Linked DNA regions of Homo sapiens: region 2 is linked to region 1. The links come from fine-mapping of genetic effects on gene expression. A gene starts in region 1. The other region holds a variant in brackets. All regions are shown on one strand. Distances are between the middles of the regions. Region 1 holds the start of BMP1 (bone morphogenetic protein 1). Region 2 has its middle 6.5 kb from the start of PHYHIP.

Region 1 (4,382 bases):
TGTCTTGGGTCCCTACTGGACTGTAAGCTCCTTGAAGGCAGGGTCCTAGCTTGTACGTCTCAGTACCTCCCACAACATCCATTCCAGGCCCTAGCACATATTAGGTATTGATGGATTGATGGATAAGAGGCACAAGGAGACACCAGCAATCCCACACCTCTCAAAAAAATGAAGTGACAGTCTGAGGCACAGAAAACAGGGAGTAGGGAGCCCACATTTATTTAGCGCTGACTGTGTGTTAAGCACTATTAAGTGTTTTATGTATGTTTTCATATTTAACCCTTACCACCAACTCTATGGGAAGATGCATGATCAGTTCCATTTTACAGGTGTGAAAGTGGCAGTTCAGACATGATCATTACCATTCTGAGGTGGTACAGCTATAATGAGTAGCAGGGTCAGGATTGAAAGCTAGATGTGCCTGCCTTCAAAGTCCATGCGCAGTCCACTCTGCCCTGTACCCACTCCCAGCCCCCAGCGAGAAAAATGACAGCAAATGTCCTGGTTTACCCGCAGCCCAGCAGGTGTAGAGGGGTAAGGGCTGAGGGATTTGCCCTGATTTCCTCCATTGGATGGTCTCTTATTCCTGCCTGTGGGCCACCCTCCCAGGAGAGTCCCTGAACAGGGTCTCCAGAGCCAGGACTAGAGCAACCTGCCCCTCCGCCCCTGGTGCCCCACACAGGCAGTCCAGTTCTAGCAACTATGCCACTTCCCCTGGCTCTGGCTATTTGGAGATGAGCTGAAGTCAGAGAGGCAGGAAGTCAAGGAAAAGTTCTGATATCTTGTCCCTGTGTGTCCCCAAACAGCCTGCCCAGGGTCATCCAATCAGGCAAATGGCCCGAGTGCCTGGCCATCTGGTCACTCCAGGGGCAGGACCCTTCTGGGCTCAGCAGGAGTGATGGGGTTACATAGAGTCTTCAGAGACAAAGAACACACACACATACAGGCAAACACACACTCCGGGGTCCTGACCTCAGCTAATTAGCCTCTGGTGTCTCGGGGGTGACAGAGCTGATATACAATATCTGGGTTCTCTTTGTATTTTCCCTCTTTCCACCCCAACTTGGCCTTGGCGGGGGTCTCTGGGCACATAGGGACAAAGTTAAGTCCCCCTTCTGGGTTGGCTTCTCTGACTTTGACAGCTGTCTCCTAAGTCCCAGAAAGCTTCAGCTACTGGTTAAACTACGGGATACCCAGAGAGCACGATCTCAGGGAATCCCTGGAAAAACTTTCTTCTTCCACTTGGGCTGGGTGGTGGCTGGGGGACCTGCTCCTTGGAGACTCAGGCCTCCCAGATCCAAGCCAGACAGATGTGCAGCCCCAGGGCAGCCCAGACAGGCTGGAAAACACCCAGCTCCTGGAGCAGGAGAGATGGGGGAGAAGGGGAAAGAACACACACACACACACACACACACACACACACACACACACACACGCACGCACAGGAGTTTGGCCAGAAAAGTTTCCTACAGAAGGAAAAGCCGCCTTGCCCGCCGGTTTTCCCGGGACGCAAGGAGACTTCCTCTGGAATCCTCTGGGAAGATGAGAGGCAGCGGCAGCAGCTTCCACCAACAGCGGCAAAACTTCAGTCCGAAAAGTCCCCCAAATCCCCCTCCCTCTCCCCCTCGTTCTTTTGTTCCCCACTGCATTGCCAACCAGGCAGCTCCCGGCTTCCCACACTGGACTGTCCTCCCCCAACCCCAAGCCCGAACCCGCCCGCGCCTCCCCGCCTGGCCCGTCGCCGGGGGGCCGGGGGGCGCTCACCCGCCTTGCAGGGGTCTTTGTAGTTGAGGGGCTCCGAGTCGTCCTCCTCCGCCAGGTCATAGGTGTAGTCGGCCAAGTCCAGCGGCCGGCCGGGACGCGGGAGCAGCAGCAGCCCGAGCAGCAGCGGCAGGCGGGCCACGCCGGGCATGCTGGCGGGGCGGCGGCGAGGGAAGCGGCGCACTGGAGGCCAGGGGAGGGCGTCCTCTCGCCCGCTTGCTTGCTCGATCGCGACCGCGACCGCTCCCGCCCTCGCTCCCCGACCTCTTCCCCTTCCCTCTGCTCGCCTCCCTCCTTCCTGTCTCCCGCCCCCCGCTCGGTCCGCGGCTCCGCGCTCGTCCTCGGGCTCCAGCCGTCTCCCTCTCCCTTTCCTTCTTTTTCTCTCTTTCTTTCTCTCCCTCCCTCCCTCCCTCCGACTCCCCCCCCCCTTTTTAGGGAAATGAGCTCGCTGGAGGGCGGGTTTTCGCCCGAGCTCTGCCCCCCTCGGGGCCGGGACAGTGCTCGGCCGGGCCGGGCCGCGCGCCAGCCGGGGCGGGGAAGGCGGAGAGCCGCGCGCCCGGGGAGGGGGCTCGGGCCGCCCGGGCCGCGGGCCGCGGGCCGCGAGGCCGGGGCTGGAGCTCGGGCCCCGGGGTGCCGGGAGGGCTGTCCCTCCTGAAGTGCCCTCTAGCGGCGGCCTCCCCCGCGGGCGCGCGGCCGAGCCCCCGCCCCGCCGCGGGACACGCTGTCAGGTCCTCGCGCCGCCCCTGCCCCGCGCCCCCGCCTCGGGTCGGTCTCTCCGCCCGCGTCTCCCTATCTCCCCTTCTTGGACCCTCGCTCTCTCGCGTCTCGCTCTCTGCGCTCTGTCTCTCTCGCTGTCTTGGTGTCTCTCCCTCCTCCGGAGACGCCGCTGGAGGGCGCCGAAAGCCCGTGGATGGCTCCCTGCGAGCCCCTCTCCCCCGCCGAGGTGGACCCAGTGCCCCAGCGCCCTGGGACAGAGGGCGAATGGCAAACCCCACTTTGCTCTCCCAAGGCCCTTCCCTTCTTGGCCGGCCCCCGCCAGGGCAGGACTGCGCCCTGCAGGAAGACAGAAGCAGACCCTTTGCTTTTCAATCAGGCTGCTTTATTCTGTTGTGGCAGGAGTTCCCGGGCCCCTGGGCGCCACCTCTGCCCACTCCCATCCTCTCCCCAAGCTCCCATTTCTCCAGGGCTTGTCCCTGCGGTGTGGGCAGAAGCAGCTTCTTGCCCGTCTGCAAAAGCTGCAAAAGACCCTTTGCCCGGGGCGTTTCCTTTCCCGTTGGGGCTTCCACTGACCCTGTGAAGCAAAGGAATGTTGAGGATGGACAGAGAGAATCAGGGGAGTGGGAAGTACCGGTCTGTGAGCTTCCCCTCCCCCGAGTTGCCTGGATGACCCCGCTTCAGTGGACGCCCCAGCGCCTGGTCAGCGCGAGCGCTCCTCCACAGCCCGGGCAGGTGGCCCGAGCGCTCCTCCGCTGCTGATCAGGGGCCCTGGGATCACACCTGCTCACCGGAGGCGTCCTAGATGTAGTAGAGCGGCACCTCGCCACACAGGGTGCTCACGGCCATGCCCAGGAAGGCCGGGTCCCCTCCGGAGGGTGCTGAGCCTGCATCTCGCCCCTCTGCCTGGCCCAGCTTAGACGTAGGCACTGCGGGCTTGGCCTGCAGAGAGCATTCCATCTGGAATGTAGGAAGTGAGTTTCTATCCCATGTGCAGCCCTTATTGTGGGACTTCAGGTATATCAGGCAATCTCTCTGAGCCTCAGTTTTCTCATCAGTAAAGAGGGGCTGTGCTAGAGTCAGAAGCCACCAGGTAGTGAGTGGACTCAGCTGAGCCCAGCAGCTTGGCAGTGGGGTGGGAAGGAAAGGAGTCGTGCAGGGGAATAGGAGAGGGGCAGTCAGCTGGCAGCCAATGAGGAACAGTGCTTTACAGGTGACAAATAGCCACCATTCGGACACTCCTCCCAGCAGCCCTGGGAGGGAGACAGCCCACTCTTTTCACCCACACACACACACCTGGAAGTTGTGGACTTTTCTAGTGAGAGCCTCAAGACTGGGGATGCTCTCTGGAGCTATCTTCATGATGTAGCAGCAGGTGCCAGGGGCTGGCTTGTAGGCGATCAGCAGCTAGGCACAGAATGCTGGAGATCATTCGGGGGTCCCTGCCCTGCTCTCTCCCTGACCCAGGTCCTTAGCCACCTCCCTCTAGGTTGGGCACGGGAGTCATACTAGAATCTGGGGCTCAGGCAAAAAAGGTCTGGAGGAGAGGGAGAGATGGATGTGGATGAAGTGGCCCAGCTGGGTGGCTCTAGCAGAGCCTTGTCATTGGTCCCAGGGTCAGGAGGTCTGGGCATACCCACCTGCTGGTAGTCATACACCACGAGGCCAGTGGAGCCGATGGAGAAGGTGGCAGTGGTAACCAGGTGCTCACTCAGGGCCAGGCGTTGCTGGGCTTCCGGCGCCCCAATGCTCATCTCCAGAACCTGGGGAAAGGGCATGGAGCCACCTGGTCTTCCCCTTTCCTACTCAGCCAGTGGTACCCATCCCCATACTCAGGCCTCTGTACTCAAATGCGCTTCCCTCTTTCCCAAGAGTTCAGGGAGGCTGAGTGGAACCAGGTGCTGGAG
Region 2 (4,382 bases), 73 kb before region 1:
GATTATGGGCATGAGCCACCACGCCTGGCTTATTTTGTATTTTTAAAAATACACTCATTCATTTTAGAAAATTTGGAAAAATTTAAAAAGCACTGAGAAGAAAAAGCTATCCATTGTTATCCCATCAAATGTTTTTGTTTTTGTTTTTTGTTTTTGTTTTTTTTTTTTTTGAGACGGAGTCTCGCTCTGTCGCCCAGGCTGGAGTGCAGTGGCACGATCTCGGCTCACTGCAAGCTCCGCCTCCCGGGTTCACGCCATTCTCCTGCCTCAGCCTCCCGAGCAGCTGGGACTACAGGCACCCGCCACCACGCCCGGCTAATTTTTTGCATTTTTAGTAGAGACGGGGTTTCACCGTGTTAGCCAGGATGGTCTCGATCTCCTGACCTCGTGATCCGCCCGCCTCGGCCTCCCAAAGTGCTGGGATTACAGGCGCGAGCCACCGCGCCCGGCCCAAATGTTTTACATACTTGAAGTCATTTTTCAATGCATTTAGATTTTTTTAAATTGGGATATTTTACACAGGTTCTTTTAATATTTTTATCTATCCATTTATTTTGAGACCAGGTTTTGAGACTGGCTAATTTTTCTACTTTTGGTAGAGTCAGGGTTTTGCCATGTTTCCCAGGCTGGTCTTGAACTCCTGGGCTCAATCGATCTGCCCGCCTCAAACTCCCAAAGTGCTGGGATTACAGGCGTGAGCCACTGTGCCCAACTGAGCTTAGTTTGTTATTAATAACATTTTATTTTCATAAATATCATAATAAAGACAATAATCTCATTGTAACTTAATAATCAAACTCTTGAGGACAAATACAGTTTTCTGGGTCTAAATGCAGGTTTTAGAAGGTATAACAGATTCTGTCAAAAATCTGTTCTTGTGAATTTTTTTTTTTTTTTTTGAGACAGAGTCTTGCTCTGTTGCCCAGGCTGTAGTGCAATGGCACGATCTCCACTCACTGCAACCTCTGCCTCCCGGGTTCAAGCGATTCTCCTGCCTCAGCCTCCTGAGTAGCTGGGATTAGAGGTGCGCGCCACTATGCCTGGCTAATTTTTGTATTTTTAGTAGAGATGGGGTTTCACCACGTTGGCCAGGCTAATCTTGAACTCCTGACCACAGGCGATCCACCCGCCTCAGCCTCCCAAAGTGCGGGGATTACAGGCATGAGCCACCACGTCCGGCCTTTTTTTTTTTTTTCCTGAAACAGAGTCTTGCTCTGTTGTCCAGGCTGGAGTACAGTGGCTATTCACAGCTACAATCATAGCTCACTGCAGCCTGCAACTCCTGGGCTCAAGGGATCCTCGTGCCTCAGCCTCCAGTGTAGCTGGGACTACAGGTGTGCACCACCATACCCAACTAATTTTTAATTATTTTGTAGAGATGGAATCTCACTATGTTGCTCAAGCTGGTCTCAAACTCCTGGGTTCAAGCGATCTGCCCCCTTCGGGCATCCCAAAGTGTTGGAACTACAGGCATGAGCCATGGCGCCCGGCCTCCTGTGAATTCTTCATGGGCATTGAAAATGAATAAGAAACTGTTTTGCATATGTATTGGTAGAGTAAAAGGAATGTGAGGTATGAGAACGCTATCCAAGTTCAAGCTATTACATGTTCTCTGTGTAATTTGTCCTTGTTTATTTGCATCATTTTGCAGGCCATTCATTTGCTGGTTCCTCCTTATCGCCTTGACCCTTACATGTTAGAGAACTCCAGAATTCTGTCCTTGGGGCCAGGCACGGTGGCTCAGGCCTGTAATTCCAGCACTTTGGGAGGCCGAGGTGGGCGGATCACGAGGTCAGGAGCTCGAGACCATCCTGGCCAACAGGTTGAAACCCCATCTCTAGTAAAATACAAAAAATTAGCCGTGTGTGGTCGTGTGCACTTACAGTCCCAGCTACTTGTGAGGCTGAGGCAGGGAATCGCTTGAACCAGGGAGGCAGAGGTTGCAGTGAGCCAAGATTGTGCCATTGCACTCCAGCCTGGGCAACAAGAGCAAGACTCCATCTCAGAAAAAAAAAAAAAGAATTCTGTCCTTGGAATTCTTTCCTATTTTCTCTATACTAACTCCCATGACAATGGTTCAGTTTCTCAGCTTCAAGTATACTGTATGCTGATCACTCCTAAGGGCTCACCTCCAGTCCAGTGCTCCCTGAATTCCTGATGTGTCTCTGCCTATTCCACACCTCCAGCTGGATGTCTGCTGGGCATCTCGAAACCTATGTGCCCATCCAAACTTTTTTTTTTTTTTTTTGAGACAGGGTCTTGCCCTGTCGCTCAGGCTGGAGTGCAGTGACGTGATTTCCGCTCACTGCAACCTCCGCCTCCCAGGTTCAAGCAATTCTCCTGCCTCTGCCTCCTGAGTAGCTGGGATTACAGGCACCTGCCACCACGCCCAGCTAATTTTTGTATTTTTAGTAGAGACCGGGTTTCACCGTGTTGGCCAGGCTGGTCTCGAACTCCTGACCTCAAGTGATCCATCTGCCTCGACCTCCTAAAGTTTTGGGATTACTGGTGTGAGCCACTGCACCTGGCCATATCCACACTTTTTTGATCTTGCTCCTCAAACTACTTCTCCAAAGTGGTCCCCATCTCAGTAAATGGTAACTGCATCCTACTAGTTGTTCAGATTAAAAATCTTGCAGGTTTTTTTTTTTTTTTT[TA/A]TGAGACAGGATCTTTCTTATTCTGTCACCCAGGCTGGAGTGCAGTGGCATGATCTCGGCTCACTGCAGCCTCAACCTCCCGGGCTCAAGTGATCCTCCCACCTCAGCCTCTCAGGTAGCTGGGACTATAGGCATGCCGCACCATGCCTGGCTAATTTTTTTTATTTTTTGTAGAGTTGGAGTTTCACCATGTTGCCCAGGCTAGTCTTGAGCTCCTGAGTCTCAAGTGATCTGCCCACCTCAGCCTCCCAAAGTGCTGAGATTACAGGCTTGAGCCACTGCACCCAGCCTTGCGACTCTTGACTCCTCTCTCCCATGCACTACTTCTAACATATCAGCTTTTTGACATACATCCGGGATCTTCCCACTTCTCACCACCTTGGTCCAGGCCACCATCATTTATTGCTGATTATTATAATTGACTCCTAATTGGCCTCCTTCCACCTGAATCCTCCAAGTCTAGTCTCCACATAGTGCAACTGACATGTTTCACGTTAGGTCACATCTCTGCTCTAAACTTCCCAATGGCTTCCCATTTCAGAGTCAAAATCAGAGGCCTTAGAACGCCCTGCGCCACGGCCCTGCACAATCTCTCCCTGCACCATTTCTCTAGTCTCAACTCCTTGCACACTGGCTCCCCCTGCTGTTTCTGGACTATATCAGGCAACATCCTGCTTCAGGGCCCCTGCACCTGTTACCTGGAATGCCCTTCCTCCACAAAATTCTGCATGGCTCCCGTCCATCCTTTAATCAGGTGTTTTTTGTTTTGTTTTGTTTTGTTTTGTTGTGTACCAAAGTCACCTTTTCAAAAAGTCCTCCTCTGATGGCCCTATTTAAAATCATAACTCCCGACTTCTCCATGATGTTTCCTATCTCTACTTACCGACTTATTTTTCTCTAGAGCATTTATCACCACCCAACAGACTATAAAGTTTGTTTATTTATTCACTTACCTATTTAATTATCTGTCTTCCCCCACCAGAATGTAAGCCCTATGAGAGCAGGGATTTTTTGTTTGTTTGTTTGTTCTCCTTTCCCTGCCTACAACTGCAGGATCCTCATTGCCTGAAACAGTGCCTGATACATAGATAAGCACTCAGTGAATTTTTTTAAATGGATGATTGAATTCCAATTTGTGATGAGATCAACTAGAAAATCTGGATGTGCATTAGAAAAATGAGTAGATTGTTTCCAGAAGGTAATTGAATTTTGGCACCATTGATGTCAAAGCCATCTGTGAGTTGTATTTTCATGTCTTCTCTATAGGTTCTTCTGTCAGTGACTCTTAATAGAGTCAGTGTGGCAAATTTTGGGTGCATGGAGGGAAGGCGCTTCATCATGGTGATCGCTTGTATTCAATATGTCACACTCTTCTGGTATTTCTTTCTTTTTCTTTTTCTTTTTTTTCTTTTTGGCAGTCTTGCTCTGTTGCTAAGGCTAGAGTTCAGGGACACGATCTTGGCTCACTGCAACCTCCACCTCCCGGGATCAAGTGATTCTCCTGCCTCAGCCTCCTGAGTAGCTGTGACTACAGGCGTGCGCCACCACGCCTGGCTACTTTTTGTATTTTTAGTAGACACAGGGTTTTGCCATGCTGGCCAGGCTGGTCTCGAACTCCTACCTCAGACGATTCGGCTGCCTCAACCTCCCTAAGTCCTGAGATTACAGGCGTGAGCTACCGCGCCTGGCCTTGTCCTGGTACCTTGCCAAGCAGTGCGCAGTGGT

The links. PIP is the estimated chance that this variant, and not a neighbour inherited with it, causes the effect. A credible set is the group of variants that fine-mapping cannot tell apart.
Region 2: its variant is the best candidate, but not a certain one, in a credible set for the expression of BMP1 in monocytes after LPS (Fairfax 2014, PIP 0.67).

What each region holds. Positions count from the first base shown.
Region 1 is chr8:22,162,936-22,167,317 of GRCh38, reverse strand. BMP1 (bone morphogenetic protein 1) reads right to left here and starts at 1,946. Exons shown (of 20, transcript NM_006129.5): 1 at 1,765-1,946. The coding sequence starts at 1,912. SFTPC (surfactant protein C) reads right to left here. Exons shown (of 6, transcript NM_001317778.2): 3 at 4,116-4,238; 4 at 3,772-3,882; 5 at 3,259-3,417; 6 at 2,839-3,052. The coding sequence ends at 3,277. RefSeq lists a silencer at 1,651-2,690.
Region 2 is chr8:22,236,372-22,240,753 of GRCh38, reverse strand. No RefSeq gene overlaps it. Among named protein-coding and RNA genes, the nearest start is that of PHYHIP, 6.5 kb to the right of the region's middle. RefSeq lists a silencer at 3,124-3,418. The variant TA/A (reference allele first, on the strand shown) is at 2,657.